5 separate regions of the Homo sapiens genome follow, and regions 1, 2, 4 and 5 are each linked to region 3. Evidence: fine-mapped expression QTL. A gene starts in region 3. Each other region holds a variant in brackets. All regions are shown on one strand. Distances are from middle to middle. Region 1 overlaps STXBP5-AS1 (STXBP5 antisense RNA 1). Region 2 overlaps STXBP5-AS1 (STXBP5 antisense RNA 1). Region 3 holds the start of STXBP5-AS1 (STXBP5 antisense RNA 1). Region 4 has its middle 220 kb from the start of ADGB. Region 5 overlaps STXBP5-AS1 (STXBP5 antisense RNA 1).

The links. PIP is the estimated chance that this variant, and not a neighbour inherited with it, causes the effect. A credible set is the group of variants that fine-mapping cannot tell apart.
Region 1: its variant is the best candidate, but not a certain one, in a credible set for the expression of STXBP5-AS1 in whole blood (INTERVAL, PIP 0.72).
Region 2: its variant is the best candidate, but not a certain one, in a credible set for the expression of STXBP5-AS1 in esophagus mucosa (GTEx, PIP 0.88).
Region 4: its variant is the best candidate, but not a certain one, in a credible set for the expression of STXBP5-AS1 in whole blood (INTERVAL, PIP 0.69).
Region 5: its variant is the best candidate, but not a certain one, in a credible set for the expression of STXBP5-AS1 in whole blood (INTERVAL, PIP 0.89).

The regions. Positions count from the first base shown.
Region 1 is chr6:146,863,662-146,868,768 of GRCh38, reverse strand. The region is part of intron 7 of STXBP5-AS1 (STXBP5 antisense RNA 1); the gene reads left to right. Among named protein-coding and RNA genes, the nearest start is that of ADGB, 270 kb to the right of the region's middle. The variant A/G (reference allele first, on the strand shown) is at 2,668.
Region 2 is chr6:146,909,474-146,914,580 of GRCh38, reverse strand. The region is part of intron 7 of STXBP5-AS1 (STXBP5 antisense RNA 1); the gene reads left to right. Among named protein-coding and RNA genes, the nearest start is that of LUADT1, 250 kb to the left of the region's middle. The variant AGG/G (reference allele first, on the strand shown) is at 2,916.
Region 3 is chr6:147,201,626-147,206,732 of GRCh38, reverse strand. STXBP5-AS1 (STXBP5 antisense RNA 1) reads left to right here and starts at 2,119. Exons shown (of 11, transcript NR_034115.1): 1 at 2,119-2,320. It overlaps STXBP5 (syntaxin binding protein 5), which reads right to left and starts at 2,316. Exons shown (of 28, transcript NM_001127715.4): 1 at 2,051-2,316; 2 at 665-762. The coding sequence starts at 2,200. LOC124901422 (a long non-coding RNA gene) reads left to right here and starts at 3,162. Exons shown (of 2, transcript XR_007059803.1): 1 at 3,162-3,917; 2 at 4,440-4,857. RefSeq lists silencers at 2,174-2,363, 2,534-2,613, 2,634-2,683, 2,714-3,133.
Region 4 is chr6:146,816,114-146,821,220 of GRCh38, reverse strand. No RefSeq gene overlaps it. Among named protein-coding and RNA genes, the nearest start is that of ADGB, 220 kb to the right of the region's middle. The variant T/G (reference allele first, on the strand shown) is at 2,081.
Region 5 is chr6:146,902,343-146,907,449 of GRCh38, reverse strand. All of the region lies in intron 7 of STXBP5-AS1 (STXBP5 antisense RNA 1), which reads left to right. Among named protein-coding and RNA genes, the nearest start is that of LUADT1, 250 kb to the left of the region's middle. The variant T/C (reference allele first, on the strand shown) is at 2,597.

The DNA.
Region 1 (5,107 bases), 340 kb after region 3:
GCATGTAAATTGCAGAATTGATAGGGGTTGAGGTTGTCTAATATTTACTTGCAAGGAGTAATAGGGTTTGCTTTAAAGGACTTGGAAGAATCCAAGAATCTGAGTGTTCATAATTCATCAGATGTATAATTCTAAAAGTGGGAGAAGATTTGAGACCATCTTATTTCTTTATTTTACTAGCGAGGAAACCAAAACTCAAAGAGATTAGATGAATGGCCAAAGCAATACAGAGAGTGAATGGGGCAGGCCCATGTCTCTTTACCCTTGGGCCAGTGGAGCCTACAGGCCTCGGCAATTGGTCTTCTAGAAGAAGCATTCAAAGTCGCAACAGATGAGATGGGAACTGGAAGGGTGGGTTGAGCACGACCCTCTGTGTGCAGAGGGGAAGCTGGTTCTATAAACGAACTCCAGAACATTTGCTAGAATAGGGATACAAATATAAAATCATAAAGCGTCCTACCTCTCCTCTGAGATACTGCCTCTAATTTTATAAAATTCCTCTCTCAGTGAGGAAGTAGAAAATGGCAAATAGCCTTCAGTGTGCTTGATTTTTCAACCCAGCATGATAGAGACATCAACAAAATTTATTAGGTTTAAATGGGATTGACTAGATTAAGTTCTCTACCTAAGAAAAATTGGGGGTTCTGTGTCATATGTTAAAATTTGGCTTCAGGAAGAATGAGATCACGTCCTTTACAGGAGCATGGATGGAGCTGAAGGCCATCATCCTTAGCAAACTAATGCAGGAACAGAAAACCAAATATTGCATGTTCTCATTTATAAGTGGGAGCTAAATGGTGAGAACTCACAGGGACACAAAGAAGGGAACAACAGACACTGGGACCTACTTGAGGGTGAGGGATGGGCGGAGGGAGAGGAGCAGAAAAAAATAACTGTTGGGTACTGGGTTTAGTATCTGGGTGAAAAAATAATCTGTGCAACAAACGCCTGTGACACAAGTTTACCTATATAACAAACCTGCACATGCACCCCTGAACCTAACATAACATTTAAAAAATAAATAAAATTTGCTTTCAGAAAGTAAGATTATGGCTCAGGAACACCTGAGAATATGATAGTAAAAGTTCATACTTGTAAAATGTAGGGAATAAAAAGGATTCTGAGGCTAAAGAAAAGCTTTAAAAACTTCTGATCTACTAAACTGGTAAGTTAGAAAATTCCTAGTCTACTCTTAATGGAGAAAATAAATGATTTTTCTCAGATTACAACACAATAACAGAGACTAGAGCAAAGACATGATCCAGAGATATTTCCACCCTTCACTTTAAGAAATCTGTGCAAAGCAAAAGAATGGCAGGTGTCACTGGGCATTGAGTGGAGTAGGATCCTTTCCAAGTGTGCTGTCTTCTATGATGAGGTTTCTTGGAGTGGGGATTCTTGATTCTGCATAGGGTGACCCAAAGCTTGGTGATACCTAGGTAGGTTGAAGAGACACTCAACTGTTCTGGGAAAAGAATAGACCAGGGCCTTCTGCTACTTGAAGGCTTCCCTCTCTGTGCCCTAAAAAATAAATAAATAAATAAATAAATTAATTAATTAATTAAATAAATAAATGGTGTGGAATCCTTGGGGCTTCAGGGAAGCAAGGAACCGAGGACTGAACTTTGTGTTTGAAGTTAGGATAGTTTGTATCTGGATGACTTAAAGATCCGTTGGCAAGAATGGAAACCAAGTCTTCCAAAGAGAAACCTACAAGAAGGAATGTGGTCAATTGCCCGGGTGACTTTGGTGCAACCAAAAGCCTTTGAGTGTTAGCCAGGGAGGGCTGGTTCAGATTCTGCAGATCCAGTTTCTAGCAGTAGAGCCTGGTGTCAGCATCAGTAACTAGTACACTGACCAGACTTTCCAGTTTTTTCTCTCTTCAACCGGCTGCCTAGTGTTCTTGTACAGAATGAACCCTTTGGAATGAATAAGTCCATAGTGTTCTTGGACAAGGCAGTAGGAGGGAACCTGAATAGGTTATACTGGATATTTTTCTAAAAACCAAACTGTGGGAACTGAAAAATTAATTGAGAGGGGAGGCATACAAGAGAAAGAGATGTGATTTTATTTAACTACAAGCTGAAAAACGTGACCCATCCTGGCTACCTATGAATATCATTAGTTCGATTAATCTGTGGATATATTATGAGATTCTCTAATTCAACATTTGGAAGTGCTTATGGACTTGAAACGTGTTGGTCAATGCTGCGCTGAAATGGGCAGCCTGGGAAGAATACTATGGGAGAAATGCGAGGATCTCTGTGACTCTCCAGGGAGCAGCCTCTGGAGGGGAACTCTTCTTGCTCCTTTTCTACAGATATCGGCATATTTTAGAGGAGTCTGTTTTCAAACAAAAATGGCAGAAAGGACCCCTTTGTAACATGAGCATTTCTTTTAGGCAAATAAGCCTCCCTGTGACCTAGGTGTTAAGAGCTGCCTTTATGATGATTTTCCCTGGACTTCACAAATGACACCCCTTTTGAGTGGTTCAGTTTGAGTGTTAACAGAAACCTATGTGTGAGTAACACGTATCCACAAATATGTTGTCTAGTTGGAAGATAAATATATGCAAGGTCATTAAGGTCACAGGGGAAATGTAATAAAAGTCCAATTATTTTGGCAAATATGTTACATCTAAATATGCATTTGCTTTTGATACTCTAC[A/G]GTTTAGGCCCCATAAAGATGATTTAGGGTGTCGTCTCTTCCTTGGCTAATTTATGAGCCCAGAGAATATGCGTCTACTCTGACCTCACCTGCTAACTTGCTAAGTGGCTTTTCTATTCCCAGAAGTTCATAGCTGTGTGCAGAACAGCCTTTGTGACTTAGAGGTAGATAAACAAGTTGGTTTTCTTCACTCCCATATTAAGCTTCTGCTCAGCACTTTCTAGAGGCGCTGCCTAAAAGTCTAAGATAAATAAAGATGTAACTGATAGGTTTTCTCTGTTCTTTCTAAAATAATCACCTTTTTGGCGACTGTATTTGTTAATAACTTAGAACCACTCAATAGGTTAAGTGAGTGTGTGGGGGTAAATGAAATCTCATTCATGGAAATAAACTTGAAACATTGAAATATTAAATTGATGATGCATGTGGCTAGACAAAAACACTTTGTAAACCAGCTACAGTTTTGAGCTTCTCATGGAATAGATCCATTTCATTTTAACTGTGCTGTTCATGCCAATGGCTGTTAGCTGGGTTTCTGACAGATGTCAGCAATGCAACGAAATCCAAATGCCTGAATGATCCTTCCTCCTGGATGTGATGCAAACTGTATCAAGTTTCTGATGCCCAGACCAGAGCACTTATGAGTCTCCAAACACAGTTCTTCTATGCTCTCCATGACCTGTCCTGTGTCATTTCGTTTAACACATAGATTTATATTCAGAAAATATAGCTATATATGCTGTGACTCCTTAGAAGACCTGATGACCCTTACAACCTAAACAGGCACTAAACACTGCTATGTTGTAGAGTGCAGGATCTGCAGTGACAGGCAAGTCCCAGGTTACCTTTTGTGACATAAATTTTGACCTTTGTCCCATATATTGGCTATGCCTCATGCTAAATTTGGGGCTCTGACGGTCAGCTCCATCCCCTGGTCAGCCTCAGGACCATGTCACAGGATGATGTAGCCAAGACATACGTGAGGACCACCAGTTATCATACTGTTGGCTCTGCACACTCATGCTACACCATTGAAATAAAACACAGAAATTCATCCCCTCTTCCTAGGAGCTGAACTTCTGCAGCTGGCAGAGACTCCCTGCATGTTTTCTGAGAAGAGCTCAGGGACATAAGAATTCATTCTGTGGAGCATAACCAGGCTTTTAGCCTCCATCCCACACACAGCTACACATGCTGTAGTAGGGGAGAGGCCAAGGACGTTGTCTGGAAAGGTGTAAGGCCAACCACAGAGTCCCCGGGCCGCGTCCTGGACCCACGCTAATCATTCCACCCCCAAGTAATTGTGGGATAATGTGTTCCCTTCTTCATAGGCAAAGCAGGTTATGGAAATTATTTTATGAAAAGTACCTGGGAGTGTTGCCAAGCTAATTTTTGGTTCATTATACCATCTATTATTAATACATTATCACATAATGATTGTATGGTCTGATCTTTCCCTCATACATACTATGGTGGTTTTTCCGTTTGTGTGTGTGCAGTGTAACTGGATCTTGGTTCATGCTGAGCTTAAAATTTGATCTTCTGAATATCAGCAGAAAGACTCTTTCTGGTGAATACAGATCTTCTGAGCAATTATCGACTGACTTTGTCATTAGACTGCCCTTTCAGAAGGTACAAAAAAAGAAAAAGAAAATTACTACTGTGAAGTGAAGTCTGAGCAACTGGGAAGAAATGCAAGGTGAAATGAAATGGTGAAGGTAAATGAACGGGAAGAACCTGGGGAGATGGTAACCACGTTAATCATAGTAAACTGGGATGAAAAGACAGAGAATAACACAATATAGAGACTTTTTTAATTATTAGAGGAAAAGATAGGTCCAATAGCATGACTAGAGGCTTTGAAAAGTAAAGACAGCTCAAAAGGAACAAAATTCTCAAAGCATTGTAATTGTACAATCCTAGCTCACCTTCATGAGAGGAAAGTTTAAGAAACAGGCAGCAGGAGGGGGCTTGCTGTCTATTTTTAGAAAGATTTTGGCCAAAAAAGGAAGTGTTAGCACAAAAAGAAGAGTCAATTTTTACAGACACATGAGGGGTAGTGTTTTCCAAAAAGACCGAAACGTGGCACAATTGTATTCACCTTTGTAACTCCAGCACCCACTATAAGGGCAAGGCCCCCCAAATGTCTTCCATTGATTTTGTCATTTGGAGAATTTGCTCCCAGGTTCATATGAGAAGGTACGGCTGACATTGTATGGTATGTGGGATTTGCTTCAAAACAATCCAGGGAGGAGAAAGCAGGGGTGAGGGTAATGACGAAATAAGATTGACTGGCCGGCTGCAGTGGCTCACGCCTGTAATCCCAGCACTCTGGGAGGCCAAGGCGGCCGGATCACGAGGTCCGGAGATCGAGACCATCCTGGCTAACACCGTGAAACCCCGTCTCTACTGAAAAATAGAAAAAATTAGCCAGGCGTAG
Region 2 (5,107 bases), 290 kb after region 3:
GAAGCAAGATGCAGCCAAGTTGGGGCCAAGATGGATTTTGAGAAAAGGCAAATTCTGACTTTTCTGCCTCACTGGATTCAGCATCTCCTGCTTACCCAGAGCTGTCTGAAACAGCACGAGAAACTAGCGGAGTCTCATAAAGTGTGTTACTAAAAAAGCTTAGAGGACATTTATTTTAAATGAGAAGAATTACTGCTCATGGTGGTTTAAAATCCTAATGGTCACTGTGGGTCTCCTCTGAATACCAAATCTCCTTGTTGAGCACTTGCTGTGTGCTTCTCGACAAAAATGGAAACCCGAGTCAAAAGGATAGCCTTGAAGTCTCTTTCCTCCTTTGTCCCCTCCACGTGGCAGAGCGTATTTTTGTAGTTTGAGATCAAGTCTGCCAGCTTGCATTAGCATATCATCCGCCTGGTTACCAAGAAAATGTGCCTGAAGAAGAAAAACAAGAGCGTGTTCGCGGTCATTAGGCTCACATCATGAGCATGAATCAGCAGTTTGGAATTTGCGAGGCTGGGGCTGAAGTAGGCTGGGGAGCCAGCAGAGCCAGCAGAGTGGGCAGGAGAACTCCAGGCTGCCTGACTGCCCCTTGCCTCCTCCTCAAGTGCAGCGCAGCCACCCCTGGTTAAGGAAAAGGCTGAGAGACCCATGACGCAAGGATGTCCTAATCCCTGCATGTCTGCGTTTTCCTGACTTCTTTAACAAATGTTGACCATCTGTAAAGGCAAAAAACGCCTTTGATAGTAGTTATATATGAATCTTTGTATTTGAAAGAAACAGAAATTAATGCAAAAAAATTAATTTACTCTGATTTGCTTTGGACATTTTCTATCATTGGTGTTTGAAAGCAATACTAGTATGCAGATACTAGTGTGGCTGATTTATGCCATGCACAATAAATATACAAGAGATGAAAGATAATTTTAAACTCCTGTAATGCTAGCAGTAATGTAGATAATTGACAATCTGTCTTTTCGCTCCTACACCTCGTGTGCATAAAACAATGCCCACCTTGCAATAAACACTCAGGAAATGATTAATAAATTAAGTCTGTCTTTTGTCTTTCCTACATCCTTGTGTTACAACATCTCTCTGTGTGTTTGTTCCACAAAATGTCTAAATGAAGTCATAGCTGCATTTTTAAAGCACCGTGTTGCTTTGCATGTACCTTTTCATTATCTTACTAAGCTCTCACAAAACACCCTTTAAATCTTCACTTATCAGATGAGAAAACTAAGGCACAGGCAGGTCAAGTGACTTACCCAGAGTGAGGGGAGTTACTTGACGGTAGAGGCAGGACTTTAACCCAGATCTCCTGGCTTTTCAGGGCTTTCATGCTCTCCCACAATGAACAAGGCTGTATCAGTCAAAAACTCTCTCCTAGTTATCGTGACTTTGGGTGAAGACTTTGGGCTACGGTGTTGCATCTCACAGGAAGTCTGTGATCAGGGGCAATTGATCATTTGACCCTATTGTCAGTCATGAACCCTGCAGAAAGCTTTGTTTTATCAGACAGCTGTCTAAAGAAGCAGAAGGTTTAGAGCAGTTGCCTTCAGAAGCAGCACTTCCAGGAGACAGGGAGGGCTGGAGCAGAGACAGGGTGGTGTTCAGGATTGGGCACCAGGAACGTGTAGATGCAGAACCCCCAGGTGTTCACAAGAAGGGCAGCCAGGAAGGGACATGGGCAATGCTTGGGCCAGACCACACTTCCTTCTCTGTTCTGCCTGTGTCATCTTCTCTTCCTAATCTGTGTGGGTTGCCATCATTCCATGGCTCTCCTGGGTGATTCTCTAGGGCCCATGACTTAATGCTGATGGGATTAATTTTAATGGCTCTACACAAAGTCAGAATGCTCTTTTAATAATATACTATTGATTTTCTCCATGCATTGGGTGTAAGCTTATTTCTGCATGGGATTCTGTGGAGCAATAGGAGTTTACATTTATATTCAAATCTGGCAGCCATACGTCAGGCCTCCTCTCAGGATGAGCACAGACCACTGTGGTGCACCACTATGAATCTGTATAATGAAAACTGCCTTTGCTACTTTCCTTTTTCATTTTAGGAAAAGGAAATACATTTTGTATACATCAATGAAATTATTAGAATACCCTCTGATACAGAGCTCAGCTCTCTTGGGAAACCAGACCTCTTATGGGTGAAGAGAGAAATAAAATATTAGGAAGCTAAATCATATGTATCTTTATCTTGGCTCTTAGCAGCAAGGCAACTTTATAAAATGTGATTATGAATTATTGAAATTTTTCTTAAAGACAGAAAACTATAAATAAAAGTCATCCAAAGGAAAAACATTGCCATGATTTATGTGCATTCTTTAAATAATTCACCAAGAGGAAATTAGAAATATTTGTTTATATGCTTGTTTGTTTATGAGATGTTTCTGTCAAAAAGAATTTAATAGGAAATCTGTTTTCACTCAAGTCCAAATTGAAATTTCAGAAATGGGCTACCCCAATGCAGAATTCATCATCATAAATGTTAAGGATTTGGGGACCGTGAAGGCACCCTCTTATCAAAACTTGTGGGCACATATGTGTGGCTGGGTGTGCCGGGTGGGGCAGCAACATGATGTCAGGTTGTGTCCTTGCTCTTCTTATTCTTTAGAGCTCTTCTCCCTCAGGATACTCCAGCTAAGAAAGTATGGACGCTTCCCCTAGTTTAGAATGCACTTCAGATGGATTCCAAGCTAGAACAAGGTCTATCTGGAGGTGAAGTCATGTGACATGAACTAATGGCTAGATTTCTACTGAGGAAGCTTGGGGTCCTTGTCTATAAGGTAAAACTATCAATATTATCAACCTCTTATGATTAGTGAGGATAGAATGACATCATGACTATGAACATCTTTTATGAAGTAGAATGTTGGGCTGAGGTCAGCTGTCTTTTCTGTCTAG[AGG/G]ATGAAGAGATCCTCCTAGCTTGGCGGAATACTCTGCTCTGATGGAAGTACCATCCTGGTCCAAACATGAAAGAATTCCCAACATCAAGATTGATTGAAACATATTCAATGGGTATGTGTGATCTTCACATATGTATCTATTGGAAGTATAACAAAATTCTTCCATTTGTGTGGTGGTGAATGTAAAATTTGTATAGCGGTGAATGTAAAATCAGAATGCAAAACCAGAAAATCAGAACCTGGGCTACTCTCCACTGTCCTCCACAAATTAGCTCTGTAAACTTGGGTAAGTCACTATACCTTTAGGCCTTATTTTTATTATTTGTAAAGCATAGGATTTGGATTAGGACATATGACAAGTATTAAAACTATGATACTAAAAGAAGTATAATGAGTAGATCTTTTAAAATGGTAGCTCCTTTAATATAGTTTAAGCCTTGATAAGAATCAGGGGAAAATAGTTCAACTCAGCTTCAGCTTCTCAAAAATCATGATTTCCACATAAGAAAGATGACCCTCCAGGGGAGAGGGAAAAGCAGAGAGGGACATGGCACCCTGCTGTGCAAGCCACAGGGAGGACACACATTTTGTCTGAGAAGACACATGTTTTTATTCAAACGGGACTCTACACCTGTGAGGAACTTACTGTGGTGAAGGTAACGTGCTCTATCCCTGAGAATCAACTTAAAAAAAGGATCCCTGAGAATCCTTGAAAAGGAACAGAACTCCTAATCAGGAAACACTGCATAGAATTTAAACATTAGAAATGAAAGTGTGTGCTAAGAATGAAACAACAACAATGACATGGGCCTTTTTTCTTACCATTCTGTTGCCTGAATTCAACATCTTCCTTTGGAAGTGATTCTTGTCTCCTGTAGCTAAACCGGTGTCTAGAATCAGGGATGGGAAGCAGTAGGCAGGGATGTGTGGACACACAGAGACATGGAGGTGCAGGAGGAGCAGTTATTAACAAACACTCCAGTCACAAGACAGGCTTGAAGACAAAGCCTTTGAGACAAAGACTTAAAGTCTAAAGGAGCACTGGTAGTATTCATCTTGTACAGGGAAGCAGCTGTCCACAGAGAACTCCACACCCATTTTGCCTTCACTCCTTGCATAATGGGAAAATATACAGTATTTTATTTGGAGCTGGTGAAATTTTTCCCTTTTGTTTTGGCTTTTCAGTGGAGGGAGGATTAGCAGAGGGCAAGAAAGAAAATGCAGTAACTCATTTAGGAAGAAGGTATAGGTGCTAGAAATAGTCTTTGTGGAAAGAATATCATATTTAAAGCAAGAGGGTAAATTTTGTTGCAAGGGAAATGAGGAACAAATCGATACAAGGTAAAATAGTTGCCAAGTCATAGGAAAGAGTAGAGACAAACATTTTTTAGACTTGTCAAAACAACTCATTATTGTACTGTCTGTGCCAAGGTCTTCAGAGTCGGTACATTTATTTATGTTTGCTCCTCAGACCACTATAACTATTTAGTTTCTCTCCCAGCAGACAGGCATTGCTGACTTGATATTCTGGATTTTGTGTTGGCCATCACACTTGGCCATTTAAATGCTTTACTTGGACCATGGCCCTGGCACACCTTTATCTCCAAGTTCATACTAGAAACCTTTATTATAGTGGTTTAATGGGAATTTAGTAGATTTAAACCAGCCTGAGAAATAACCACTTAACAACTTGCTTCTATTGGATGGCTTCAGAATCTATTCACTCGTGCCTCCAATAGTTGTGTGTTGTTGCCCAAGCATGTCCAGAGAGGTGAACTGACAGCCAACCACTTCTTTCACAAGATCACCCCGTGATATGACACAAAATGTCACCATGACTTGGAAATCCCATCTTTTGAATTTCTATCTCTGGTTATTCCATGAAAGGAAAATGTTTAACAATATCTTCAGAATGTAGAGCTTTAGAGCTCTGTTTCCTGAGGAGTAGCTTAATTAAGCACAAGTAATTTCAGCCTATGCACAGGAGGTCATGAGTAGTAACTGGTTACTGTTTGATGGTAGGATGCATAGTTTAGCTCCCTCAGGACAATCCAATGACTATATGAGACACTAAAGAAATCATCAAGGCCTGCCTTTGATTTTACGGTTGGAAGAACTATGGTTAGAGTGGTTGCTGCTTGTTCAAGGTCAAACATTAACTATGCATAGGCAGAATTAAAACTGATGTCT
Region 3 (5,107 bases):
CTATACTACTAGTTTAATGTATAGTAACCTAACAGTTTTTACAAATACATAACAAATGTAGACTATGAGAGAAAAAGTATATCAAGAGAAAAAATTTATCCCCATGCATTTTTCAAGAAAACGCTCTAAAAACTGGTAGAAATATTAACCATTTATAACTATTCATAGAAAATTAATTTGCTACACTTCTGCTAATTGTTTTTCTACACGGACATGCCAAAAACAACCAAATTCAGATTGAAATCCAATCTCTAATTTATTAGAATAGGTCATAAGTTCAATATCTACCATGCATAATATTTTTAAAAGTAATTGTCTTTAAACCTCATCCTTAACATACCTCATTCATCACACCAATAGTATAGAAGCAGATATATTTTTCCTTAGAAACTTCTATCTCCTTACAAATAAAATAGTTATCATAAAAAAACTTTAGACCTCTATTTGGATATATGTTTAGCTACTATAAACTAGGAGCTGAGAAACATCACAGCAGTATATAAGCTGAATTATAATCAAGGGAAAAGCCAACACATGATTTCTCATAGTATATATCTAATCACACCAACAGGAAAATAAAAACTTTCTTTGGAACTAATCAGCAACACAGAAGGACTGGGGAGAACAAAGTAGAAGTTAAAAAATAAAATTAAAGAAAGGATACAGCCTTAAAGCACCAGTCTGAGTTCCCACTGCCAGGATCTTCTGTACAGGATCAAAGGCCAGGGCTGAGGGTTGATAGGGAAATCCATGGCGAACAGTCTAGGGATGGGCAAGTGACATCACAGCAACCAAGGCAGCAAGCGAAATTTTAAAATAGAAAGTCAATAGAGGCGTTAGAATTTAGAACCACTACCACTGATGCAAAACACATACACATGCACTTACTGCTTTTGAAAAAATAAGTGAAACCTACATTAACAAAGTTATTCACATAGAACCTGAAACAAACAAAAATCTAGTCCAGTGATATACTTTAATTTCGCTTTTCCATAATACTGGTATTCCATAGAAGAAAATCTTTTATTAATATTCTATACTACTACATCCGACACCAGATGACTAAAGTTTGCAATGGTCCAAAATTCTGTAAACCCATTAAATGCAATTCATACTTTATTTTGGCAGTATTCATTTCATCATTACTTTATTTGGATGCTAACGCAAGTACTTCTAAGGAAAAGCTGTCATATAATTACTTTAGTCAAGCATTCAGTAGAGCAATAATCAAACCTCTATCCCAACATTTTACACTTGTAACAGAATGAAGATGAGTACAACATACATTTTTGCAATTTACTATTAAGGCCATAATCATTTTAGGGCATTAGACCTATATATATATATATATATATATATATGCACACTTTTAATTAACTCTGACATACAAATACATGGCTATTTATGAGAAAGGCAGGTATTAAAACCGAGGCAAGTTTGTGTTTCTCATTAAGCAGCTGGTGACTTAATTCGCTGCATCATTCTTTCTGAATTACAGAACGCTATGGCAATTATCGTGCCATTAACAGGCAAAAATCTCAGTACTTTTTAACAAACATAATGATAAAAAGAACCCTGTGATTTCATATCGTAAGCCACTTACACCACATTTTAAGGGAAAAGTGATGAGCAAAGGTGTGGTAGAACAGGTTTGGCTTTTTGATAAACAACATTCATTAGACACCGTTTCCAAAGGAAACTTCGAAGTTGGTGAATCATATTAAAACGCTTGAATATAAAAGCTTCCAGGTTATTACTGGCAGTGTCAGAATACGATTAAAGGTCGGATAATAGTTTGAAGCAACCTTGAACTGATTGCTGCATGTGCAAAGGGGAGAGAGAAAAATCAATGAAAAGGAGTAAGGTATCAATCTCCAAAACAACCCACCGAAGAAACGTTTGCCAAGGGAGGAGCGAGCCTTTTATTAGAGTTATTATTATTATTATTGGCGTTCTCTTCCCTTGCATTCCCATGTAAAGCCCGAGTAGCCCCCTTAAAACAACCCCAATTTTTCAATGACGGTGTCGCGGGGCTGCGCGCTCCGTTCACCTTGCAGAGCTGAAAGTGCTCGGACTGGAGCGTTTCCTGGATCTCCGGCTCCCGGTTCCCAGGCGGATGCTGCTGCTGTTGCTGCTGCGACGCCGAGGACGAGCCGGCGGTCAGGCCGTCCAGCACCTTCCTGATGTTGAATTTCCTCATGGTCTCGGAGGGGCTCCCCCGCAGCCCGGGAGGGGAGGCACAGGGGGTCCCCGGGCGGGGGAGACCACCCGGGGCCGAAGGCAGCTTCGACCGCGGAAACGGAGGAGTGGGAGTGTGAGGGTAAGGAGGCAGCTGGGGGGAAGCAAAAGATAATCCGAACAGGAAATACTGCGACGACAAGAGCGGCGGCCGCAAGAAACCTGGGCGGCGACCCCTCTTCCTCCGAGGCCGCCGCTGCTTGGCGCGGCTGCTGTGGTGCCGATTCAGCCGCCGCCGCCGCCGCCTCGCTCCGCGGCCCGGCAGCAGCAGCAGCAGCAGTGGCGGCGGCGCCCGAGCCCGCTCAGCCCAGCCTCACCTGGCCGCGGGCGGACTCTGCGCCGCGCCGCCGCCCCGGCTCGCCCCCGGCGCCGCCACCGTCGCCGCTGCGTCCATGGCCCGCGGCCGCGCCGCTGCTCGCCCGCCCCGGCCCCGCAGTCCCTCGGCGCGTCCTCCGGCTCCTTCTCCTCCTGCCGGGGGTCGCCGGCTCTCTGTCCGCGGCCGCCGCTCGGCCTCGCACACAAGGCGCCTGGTGTGGGTCCCCGCGCCGCCTGCCTCGCCCCGCCTCGCTCCTCCGCCGCTGGACCGGCCCGCCCTCGCCGCTCCCGAGCCCGGCTGCGTTCCTCAGGCGCCGCCGCGGCCGTCGGCTCTCCCCGCCCAGCCGCTCCCCATCGCCTGACAGGGCGCCTCGGCACACGGCACCAACGCCCGCCCGGAGCAGCAGCGGCAGCCGCGGTTACAGCGCGGGCCGCGGCGGTGGCGGCAGCAGGGCCTCCCAGGAGCCGGGCTGCGGTACCTGCGCATGCGCGCCGCAGCCCGGTTCCCCCACCCTGGCCCAGCAGGCCCCCAGCCCCCCAGCCCGAGCGAAGCTGGGGCTTAAATTATCTTCTGCGAAAATCCCAGACGCTGGCTAAATTTCTCCCACCCCAGTCGAGTTGCCAGAGTATGCAGCTGCTTCTCTTGCAGCTGGCATAGTAAAAATGTTGACGACTAACAAGCAGCAGGAAACCTTTCTTTCCAATTCAGTCATTACAGCAGGGGTTGATGCTTTCTCGCCGTTAATGGGGTGCACGCTCCTGGCCGCTGGCTGCAGTATTATTTTTCTTGCTTTATTGACGGGCGTTGTTTTTGTTTGATTGGATTTGAGTTTTGAAAAAGAGCGTCTAGACAACGATATGTCAGTGGCAGGAGGATGATGGACTTAGGTACTAGGAAAAGGAGAGAAACCTAGACGGGAAAAAACGGGTTCTTTCCTACAGCTGTTACTGTTGGTGGAACGTGTCTGGTCTTAGCAGTTAGCTGCTGGGATGGAAGAGGCTGCCAGCGGGGAACGGTTCCAGGGCCGGTGTCAGCCCGGGCCGATGACACTACCCCGCACCCAGCCCCTCGCCGGGGAGGAGCGCGGGTGGCAGGAAACGCCGCGCTGCCACTATTTTTCAGAACCTTCAATCTGCCCTGACGCTGATGAGCCACTCAGTAATGCCCTGGGAGCTTCACTCTAGAACGGGGAAAGGGGGATAGGATGAAGTTTTTGCTCAGATCTTTCCGAGGCCGCACTGCCCATCTCGCGTGAATGCTTGGAGACAAATGCCTGGCTCAAGTTGGAAAAGACAGACAAGAGATTGTGCCGGGGAAACCCCCCGGAGAGTGCGTTCAACAGGACAGGTGGACGGAAGCACAGGTACTTGATTAGGAAGGATGTGGAAATAGGAAAGACGTAAGGAAGGAAGGAAGTGCAGGAAGACTAATCCTAATTCGGGGAGAGGGGGACAGGTTCCTAGCGAATGACTCCTCGCGCGCTCTGGTCTGCGGAAAAGCCACGGAACCGCCACAAAGGGTTTTTTTAAGTTCCAAACCTGTCAGAAGCACCCGCCCTCTTCTTTGTGAGGTCGGCTCCCTCTCCTTTAGGGAAATTCTCGTCACCCTATTGGTTGAGTTAACCAGCATTCAAAAGCAGTCAGCGAACCAACTACGACTGGGCCCAGGGATTTCGGGAAATGTAGTCCACTCTGCAGCTTCCGCATCCCAGGACGATGTCTTGCATTTGGAACCTACAAAATTTTGATTTGTCGTTTAATATTTATTGAATTAGTTGATTCGCTGGGTGCAACGACCAAGAAAACAAATGTGAGGACATTCCTAAACTATTTCCAAGTGGCTCTGAATTTTTTATTAATTTAGTTCTCTAACATTTTGTTGTCAGGCGGTGTGCTAGGTACTAAAGACACGAAAATGCAATCCTTGCTTTCAGCAAGCTCACTACGGTCTAACGGAGACGACTTTTAACATAAATAGTAATTGTAAAACGATGTGATGAGTCCAATGATGGAATAATGAAGGAGGACGGCAGAGGGCCACTTAACTGGCCAGGAAGGCTTGGACATGGTGACGCCCACCATAGATCATGCCGGATAAGGAGGAGCAGACCTAGCGAACAGGAGGCAAAGACCATTGGAAGACAATGGGGAAGAGAGCCTCAGAATTACCTTGAGAGCTTTTTAAAAGTACATGTGATTCCACAGGGGGAAATTGCAAAACAGACAGATCACAACCCCATAGAATTGTATGATCTGCCTTTTTACTTACCTAGGTCTAAAATAAATCTATTGGATAATTTTTCATCATTGGATTATAAAACTTTCTAGAAAAAAAAGACAACTTCTTGTTGAGAGGCTTTGTGGTGTAGTGGGAAAATATAGGCTTTGTTGTCAGCCAGCCATGAACTTCAGTCCAGGCCATGGTAATATGTGTAATCTTGGGCAAATTTTAAATTTTTCTAGGGATCAGATTCCTCAGGTTTAAAATGAGATTAATACCACCTTCTTAGAAATTTATGAGCATGAACTGGAGGGGGAAAAGAAAGAATATGAA
Region 4 (5,107 bases), 390 kb after region 3:
ATAAATTTTTTAGAAGTAAAAATTCTAGGGACCGTGTAGTCTGATTATAAGCAAATAAAATTATAAATAAGTAACACACTTCTAGTGGCAGGATAATGATGTGTCATATTTTTGCTTTTCCCCAAAACTACTCCTGAAAACTATAAATACAATTGTGATGGCAAAGCAAGTACACACACACCCCCCACAAAAAACAAAACTCAGATAAATTGCTAGCAAAATTAGATGACAAGAAATTCCCATAAACAAGAGTGGTATTGAGAGTGGCAGGAGGCAGCCAAATGCCTAGGCAGATAGGGGCGGGCCCCTGGTGAAACCCCACCTCGAAGCCAAAGACAGTTTAAAGCCTGAAAGCCAAGCTACAGGTTAAATCCTCCATGCTTTCCTCTGATTGATCCCCACCCTTCACCTATTTTACATATACCTACCCTTTCCTAATTGGTTTTCTACACTGTCATGCCCACATTTGAGTGATGTCTTCGCTTTAATCTTTTTTGCATACTCACAAACCAATCAGCACACACTCTCCATTCTGAGTCCATAAGAGGCCCCAGAGCCAGCAACAGGGGAGGGATTTTCCTGCCCTCAGATAGGGGAACCACCCCTATATCCCCTCTCCGCTAAAACCTGTTTCATCGTTCAATAAAATTCTTTTCCACCCTCCTCACACTTCAATGTACAGTGCATCTTCATTCTTCTTGGGCGCAGTAGAAGATCTTGGGAACCACAGAACACAAGTACAAGCTATAACACAGGTGAGCTGGGGCACAGTATCATCCCCGAGAGCGGCCCAGGTAGGGCATCACTGGCTGGGGGTCCCTGGCTTGCAAAGCGACCGAGAAAAAGAAAATCCTGCCTCTGTAGTTGTGGCCCAAATAAAGACAATCAGCAGGATTATCTGAGCATTTAGACCTGTATGGTTGGCACAGGTGAAAACACAAAAACCACCAACGGACCCTAATATCCATGAAATTCCACTTGAAACTCTAAGAAATATCCAGAAGAACTTGCCTTAAAGTAGGAGAACACCGTTTGAAGAAGTAAGCAAACTGAGAAAAATGCTGGCGAAAGGGGAGAAAGAATGCTGAGACCAAAGGGTCACGGATTCAGATTACCGCAAGAGAAAAAATATCTAAAGATAGAACTGTCTTGAAAACCAAGGTCCACAGAAATCTAGGAAACAGAGGCTTAGAGGCAAAAAACTCAAAATCTGTCATAAAGCAGAATTTTCTCTGACAGACAGAGAAATGGGAAATCAGGCCATATTTTGATGATTACAACTCTAAAGGAAAATAAAAATCTCAGATCCCCCAAACTCATTACGCCAAAGGGAAAGATAAGCCTGGAGAGCCTGGAGGCTGAGTCATGCAACACTGCCATTCTTTTCCCAAATGAATAGCTTGTTCTTCACAACCTTGTGTCAAAGCATTGTACATTTGTCAGACCCCACAGAAAGGCAAAAAGCTTCACTGTCCAAGCTGTTCCTAGGTGAGTTCTTTGCTGGCCTGGAAACCTTTCAAAAATGTGTACGTTCCCATAAAACAAGGGCATGTCAATTACAACTTTAGATCTGCAATCCAAGTCTAGTACCGAAAACTAAAGTCTGTTAGAATTCACACTGACAATGTCGATAACAAGTTTGTCTTCCCAGGTGCAGAACATACAAGAAGGGATCAATCATTCCTCCACCTAACCTGAGATGTCTGCATGGTTGATTCTTCCTTTACTCCCTTGTTCTTGGAATGTTCACCTTATCTGATATAAAATGTGCATTTCATGGGCACTGATTAAAATCTCACAAAAATGTAACCATTTGCCTCACCACGTACCTGCCTCTTCCTACATGCCTTCCCCCCTTTAAAGAAATGTATAAACATTGAACTTCCTGAAAACCCCTTCAGAGAACACAAGCACAGATGTTTCTGTGACTCGTGTTTTTTTGTTTTTTTTTTTTTTTGGGCACCCCCTCAAGCTTAACAAATCTCGAGACATTGATGAAACTCTTGCCTCAGTCTCTCATTGTGGGGCATCCTCCATCCATAAAGCTGGGAGAGTTCCTTTAGATTCTTTGTCATTTATA[T/G]GAACCTGCTTCTAATAGTTTATAAAACTCAATCTCTTAAATAATGGGGGAAAATCTGTTATTAAAGATGAGATAAAATGAAACAAATAATAGAAAATGAAAACATCCCAGAGAAGTATGCTTTGATCAGAAGAAAAATGTAACATAATGATTCAAAATAAGCTACAAAAAAACTATCAGAGCTTTGGAAAAATAGCAAAAATCAGAAATAGAAAAAGCTTAAAGAGTAATAGTTTAAAAAACACAGCAGGCTGGGCACGGTGGCTCACATCTGTAATCCCAGCACTTTGGGAGGCCAAGGCAGGCGGATCATGAGGTCAGGAGTTCGAGATCAGCCTGACCAACATGGTGAAACCCTGTCTCTAAAAAAAAAAAAAAAAAAAAAAATTAGCCAGGCGTGGTGGCACACACCTGTAATCCCAGCTACTCAGGAGGCTGAGGCAGGAAAATCACTTGAACCTGGGAGGTGGAGGTTGCAGTGAGCTGAGATCACACCATTGCACTCCAGCCTGGGAGACAGAGGGAGACCCCATCTCAAAAAAAAAAAAAAAAAAAAAAAAAGGCACAGCAAGAAAAGTAAAAGAAAGCAAGTGAAAACTATCAAACAAATAATAGCAAAAAATATCTGAAAGAAAGTAATTGATCAAAAATACATCATTTAAATTATAATGACAAATTGTTTGCAGATGAATTTTTATCTAACTTAAAGAATATATAATATTAATGTTAGTACTTGAATATCCTGAATATATATATACACACACTACCTGAATATATATATACACACAGACACATATATGTATATATAAAATTCATAAATTTATGAATAAATTATGGTATATTTGTACCATGGAATATTTCATAACAATTAAAAAGAATTAACAGTGACTTCAAGAGATTCTGTGTTGTTTGGTGAGAAAAAGCAAGACACATTGTATTATGCTTTAAAGAATGCCATTTTGTAAAACAAACCAGGATATAATATAAAATATTGAGGTGTGAGCATATGAGATGAATGAAAAATATGGAAACATTCAAAATAGGTTGTTTCTATGTATGTACTTTGGGAGCTGGGGTCATAAGGTTGTGAAGCTAAGAGTAGGCAAAGAATAATGTAAAAATGCACATTTGCATTTATTAAGTAACATTACATATACAACTGGGGAGGTGTATAAAATATTAACTTTTTCATGTAAACTTAAAAAATTTTTTGAAAAATAAACATTGTATATTTTCAAAGTATACCACATGATGGTTTGATATATGTATACACTGAATAATGATTAATATATTCAATTTAATTACTACTATTGATTCTGATGGCACCATCCGTTCTGTGCCTGAGATACACAATTTGTCAGCTTATAACTAAATGTTTGTACTCTTTGACCAACATCTCCCCATTTCTCTCACCCCTAAGTCTCTGGTAACCACTGTCCTACACTTTGCTTCTATGAGTTCAACTTTCACAATTCCACATGTGAGTGAGATTATGCATTATTTTTCTTTCAGTTTCTGGCATATTTCACTTAGCATAATGCCCTACAGGTTCATCTATGTTGTTGCAAATGGCAGGATTTCCTTCTATTTTATGGTTCAATTATATTCCATTATATATATATATACCACATTTTCATTATTCATTCATCAATTGATGGACACTTAGGCTGTTTCCATATCACTATTGTAAATAATGCTGCCATGAACAGAGGGTTGCAGACCTCTCATAGACATACTGATTTCGTTTCCTTTAATATATACCCAGGAGTGGGATTGCTAGATCATATGGTAGCTCTAGTTTTAATTTTTTGAGAAACTTCCATACTGTTTTCTGTAATGGCTATTGCAATTTACATTCTCACCACAGTGTGTACAGGGTTCCCTTTCTCCACACCCTCCCCAACACTTATCTCTTGTCTTTATAAAAGCCATCTTAACAGGTGTGAGGTGATACCTCATTGTTGTTTTGATTTGCATTTCTCTAATGGTTAATGATGCTGAGTACCTTTGCATATACCTGTTGGTCATTCCTGTGTCTTCTTTGGATTGGTGTTTATTCAAGTCCTTTGCCCATTTTAAAACCAGGTTATTTGCTTTTTTTGCTATTGAGTTACATGAGTTTAATATATTTTAAATATTAGCCCCTTATCAGATATACAGTTTACAAGTATTTTCTCCCATTCTATAGATTGTCTTTTCATTTTGTTGTTTCCTTTGTCGCGCAGTAGCTTTTTATTTTTATGTAGTCCTACTTGTTTATGTTTGCTTTTGTTCCCTGTGCTTTTGGTGTCATCTCCAAAAGAAATTGCCAAGACCAATGTCAAGGAGATTTTTTTGTAGGCAATCTTCTAAGAGTTTTATGAGTTCCAATGTTACATTTAAATCTTTAATCTATTTAATTTTTTTATACAGCATAGGGCAATGTTCCTATTTTATTCTTTTGCATGTGGATATTTAGTTTTTCCAACATCATTTTTGAAACGATTTTCTTTCATCATGTGTATTTTTGGCATCCTTGTCCAAAATTAGTCGACCATATATGGGAGTATTAAATATTTTTAAGCTAGGCATGGTGGTTTATGCCTGTAATTCCAGCATTTTGGGAAGCAAGCTGACATGGATGGATCTCTTGAACTCAGGAGTTTGAGAACAACCTGGGAAACATGGCGAAACCCTGTCTCTACAGAAATTGGCCGGGTGCCATGGCTCCAGCCTGTAATCCCAGCATTTTAGGAGGCCGAGGTGGGTGGATCACCTGAGGTCAGGCGTTCAATACCAGCCTGGTCGACCTAGTGAAACCCCCGTCTCTACTAAAAATACAAAATTAGCCAGGCGTGGTAGCCACACCCCTAATCCCAGCTACTCAGGAGTCTGAGGCAAGAGAATCACTTGAACTCAGGAGGTGGAGGTTGCAGTGAGCTGAGATTGCGCCATTGCACTCCCGCCTAGGCAACAAGTGTTAGGAAAAAGCTGAGTGTTGGGACAAAAACTGAGGCAGGGCTTGCATGTCTGACATAATGTCCTCTG
Region 5 (5,107 bases), 300 kb after region 3:
GGAGCTCGAGACCATCCTGGCTAACATGATGAAACCTCATCTCTACTAAAAATACAAAAAATTAGCTGGGCGTGGTAGCACACGCCTGTAGTCCCAGCTACTCAGGAGGCTGAGGCAGGAGAATCACTTGAACCTGGGAGGTGGAAGTTGCAGTGAGCCAAGATTGTGCCACTGCACTCCAGCCTGGGTGACAGAGCAAGATTCTGTTTCAAAAGAAAAAAAGAGTATTTGTTGATAAATAAAAGTTAAACTTTAAAAAATATATTGTTTTCCCATCACTTTTATTGTCTGATTGAGGAAAATTACCTCATATTTGTCTCATTCAGTTCATCTTTCAACATGGGATTCTAACTATAGAAGTTGTCATGAAACCAACCAAAGTTATCAACAGAGCCCTGGCTTTAGAAGATACTGCCTTGGGTTAACAAAGAGGACAAAAATAACCTGTGTTTAAGTGTTTAATTCTGTTTTCATAATGTATTTATTTCAAAGATTTTTAAGTGGAAATATGGGACTTTGTAAAATAAGTTTTTAAAAATATCCTTAATTGTTCATGGCCAGAGGAGATGAAATTGCCAGAATAAGGATGACATGGAACACCCAGGGGTAGACTAGGAGGGATGTAAATGTGAAGATACCAAGAGATGGCATCCTTGTATCTCCATCAGTGCCTGTCATCACAGAGCTACCTTAAACGATCACATAACCTAAGGAAAATGAGTGGGCTTAGTATGTAAATGCAACTTTAAGACAATCCCCAGCTTTTCTTCCAACATATTGCAGTCCCTGAGCCCATAGCGTAATAGAAATTCTGGAAGCTAGCATCTTCTAATCCAATAAAGCTCAATAGTAATAACAAAAACCTCTAAAGAAGTCGTATCTCAAGCTTGAAATAACTTGTAACCTCCTCATCTCTTTTTCTGTATTGTTACTGAGTAGCAATCTTGAATTCAAGCAATTAAAAAGTGGAAAATATTTGTAATATTCCTATATCAATAACACTGGTTAAACACTTTATATATATATATATATATATATATATATATATAAAATACACTTACATGAAGTGCATAATTTAGCACTTACTATAGACCAGATTCTTAATTTTGTGCATTACCTCACTTGTTTCTCAAAGCAGCACTGTGTGAAGTAGATACAATTCTTTTACCCATGTTAGTAGTTGAGAAAACAATCTCAGAGAGCAGAAATGACTTGCTGCAAGTTATACCATGAGTGACAGAGCTGAGAGGTTAGCACAGTCTCTCTGACAGGAACACCCTAGCTTATAACCACCATGTAACACTGCCAAAACAGTAAGGAGGTATTTGAGTTTTCAGGGTCTGCACACATATGCAGTTGATGGCTGTTGGGAAACTAAATATGAAAATAGCTTGGCTTATGCAGTACAGAAAAATGTTTATTCTATTTCCTAGGATGTAGGCTGGTGGCAGAAAGTAGACCCTGGAGAACAGGAGCACTTGGTTTCAAATAAAATACCTGCATTAAATATTCAGCTTTCCTGCACCTTTATGTGAGTACAGTACCAGAGGAATGGGCAAACTGGCAATGGCTCAGCCTTGGTATAAACAAATCTCTGCACTGGCCCCACTGAAGGCCTGATACTTTATCAACTGGTGAGACCCAGAAGGGGTACCAGGAACACACAGTTTCCCCAGGGCCACTGCTGCAGCCTCCCTGGTTAGATCGTGGTGCCAATCAGGCCTCCAGGTTGATAGGAATTGATGTGGATTAGTTTCACAAAGCTGCCTCTCTTTAGCCCCAGTCAAATGCAGCTGTCCAGGTAAACCTAATGCCAGCAATGGTCAGATAGGCATCTTTGTGGTTGCTTGGATAATAGGTATGTTTATTTCCTCTGTGATGTCTGGGCAAGTGCCAAGGTTCAGGCCTCTGGCTAAGGAAGCAGAGGGACTCAATGGGAAATTGCCAGAGGGCTGACTCTAGCTGAACATTTTTGCCAGCAGCTATTTGATCATTCTAAAGATAAAGAGGACAAGGAAGAGCCAAATTCATTTTGCAACTGGAGTCCTCTGGGTGTTCAGTCTCTTTGTAATATACTGTTAATGTGATTAAAATGGAAGCATTTAGACTTAAATGGTTGTTGGAATAAATTAGGGACATCAAAATTGGCAGAGTTTAGGTTTTGAAGAACTCAATTCTGTCAGCTCTCCATGAAAGTTAATCACTCCAATATTAAGCTATTTTTTTCATGATGTGAAATTTGGCAGTGAACAAAATCAACAGGGTCACAGCTTCAAAGAGGAATCCACTACATTTTGGCAGAGAAATGTGCCTAAGAATGCCTCTTTTAAAGGACTTAAGAGGAAGCATCTATTAATCAGAGGGGGTAGAAGAGGTGTGTGTGTGCATACATGTACCCAGTATCTGAGAGCCAGTCGGTGAAACTGATTTTTTAATGTAATCTGCTGTCTTCAAACACTTTTCCATTGGTCTTCAAAAATAAAAAGAAGCAAAAATTCAAATAGCAAAAACACCTCTAAATGTACATGTGACACAGACATACGCATACATGTATATAAACACATATACGCAGACAGGTAGCACGTGAAGAATAAGA[T/C]GGTGAGAGATGTGTATATATTTATATGCACGCATGCACATGTGCACACTGACATTTTGGTTGCCTGGGTAGCAAGCAGAAACAGAAAGCTTCTCAGAGTAGAGCTAGCCACTTCTTGAAGATCTGACATGTCTCAGGCAGTCGTGGGTAGCTCAGAGCAAAATCTTTGAAGAAAGCAAATTTGAATGTCTCTTTATGATCGTATTTATACCTCAGACTTTTTTTTTTTTTTTTAATCCTCAGACTCCTTAAGTCCATGGGGAAAGGGCTGCAAAATAGGAGTTTGGCTTTTTGGCCTATGAATTAATGACAGTTTCTGGATCAGCTATTTCCCAGAGAACAAATCTCTTATTTCCCTCAACACACACACACACACACACACACACACACACACACACGGATACAGAATATACACATGCACTCAACATTATCAGCTCTTCTGTATATGTGTGTCTAACACATTGTTAATGGTTTTCATTTTCAGTGTTTTAAGGATTTCCCTGAAGGTTATCCAAATAACAGCTTTGCAAAAAAATACATAAAAGGCCACGTTCAAATTGTCTTTTGAATGATGCCCTTGCTAGTCATGAAAATAAGCTCTTTCTCATACGCCCGGTGCAGTACTAAAAAAGAACCTGGCACCAGCCGTGATGAAAATCCAGTCTGGGGACTAGGAGAAATGAAATATACTGTGCCCTTTCTCTGAGGTCATGACTCCATCCTCAAGAAGGCTATAGCAAACAATGTTTAGGGGTAGAAAGTGTCACATGTAAAATATCCACTGGGAACTTTGGCTTACGATACTCCTGCATATGCTAGAGAAGAAAACAAAGGTTTATTTCCTATGATATATCAATCTTAGGCTTTTTATGTGATCAGGTAAAAGGGAGTGTGGGCTACAGGTCTGGGGACCAGTTCTCTATTTTAGGCATTGATTCTACATAGTTTGTGACCTTGGACAAATCATGAACCCCTATTCAGAACTTATCTGTAAAATTAGGATGAACATGTCAACCTCCTCCCCATTGTGGCTGAGAAGAACAAAGATGATTCTTAGATGTCACCTGTGTGAAACCAACAAAGTGCTTTATAAATATGAGCTACGGGGATTTACATAGAGGGAAACTAATACATGCAAGTAGGGAGTGCAACGCTTCCTTCTGGAGAGGAAGAGGCCTCAAGAGGAAGGCACCCCTGCAAAGGCGGGAGGGACTGGCTGCTATTGTCTAACGCATGTTGAATGAGTAAGTCCTCTAAGGACCTTTATCATCTCCGTCTTCCAAGTGCCCGCTTGGTTTGAATGCCCACACGGTCAATTTGAGTTGAATTTCCAGCCTGCTAATGTGTGTTGATGTTGTTGTTGCTGAGAAACTTGCATTTCCCCTATAGATTAGTTGATCTGCCTTTCTATAGAGTCTGAGTTCCTGATCTTTCCCCCACTTTAGTGCTAACGTAATAAAAATAGAATTGCTGCATAATGATCCAAAGCCCTAATTGATTCTCCAGTTACTGTAATTGTGTCTCAGACCTCCAAATCCACACTGAAGTCGGCTATTGATGAAGCATTCTAACCAGAACACAAGACTGGAATGCATGGTGGGAGAACCTCAAGAAAAGGAGATCTTGTTTTAATTAAAATTAGCCCTTACTAACAAAAGAAAACAGTTGTTCTCAGGCCTTGGATGCTAACAGGAGCAAGATTCCTCCTGAGGGGAGTGAACCTCAATGTTTTTTTAAAAATGTTACCAGCTTTTCAAATAAGTAGGCTGCTCAGTCCCTTAACAACCTAGATGGGTAGCCTTTCTATAAATAGCTCATCCCATTACATTCTTGTTTATTCTCTGTTTATGTGGTTACTGGCTTTATTCTTGCCTATTGTGGGTAGATGCCCAGGCTCCAAGGCAACTTTGTATTTTTGTCTTTTGGCAAAGCAGAACAAGGGGTGGGAGTGAAGAAGATGAAGATGGCGACTCTCCCCCTACACCTACCAACACAGCAACCTACATACTGTCTGTCTGAATGTCCCCAAGGGCTCCAAGTAAATGACAGTTTTGTCAAAAATGCAACTGAATGGTTAAAAGAATATGAATGATCTAGGTAAATTATAAAGCCTAAGATATACACACACATGTATATGCATGTGTATGTGTGTATACACATTTACATAGCTATACTATGCATACATGTGCATATGTATGTGCATATAGGTATATTCAAACTCTTAAATATGAATGCATTGAAACTTTAAATAAAAGGGAAGGAAGACAATGAGTGCCATCTCGTGGAGAGGAGAGCTACCAGTAAATTTTCCAAATTGTCTGTACTTCAGACATTTTTTTAATGACTAACCAATATTCCTCGGAGTAAATATTTTCTTCCTGCCTTTCCAGGTTTTTCACCTAAATAACAATAAGTGTCCACTACATGAACACTGTCTTGTTCCTTTGTGCCAGGATATGCTTTAAGGAATGAACTGCGTTCATGGGAGTGGGTGTTTTGGTGTATCAGAAA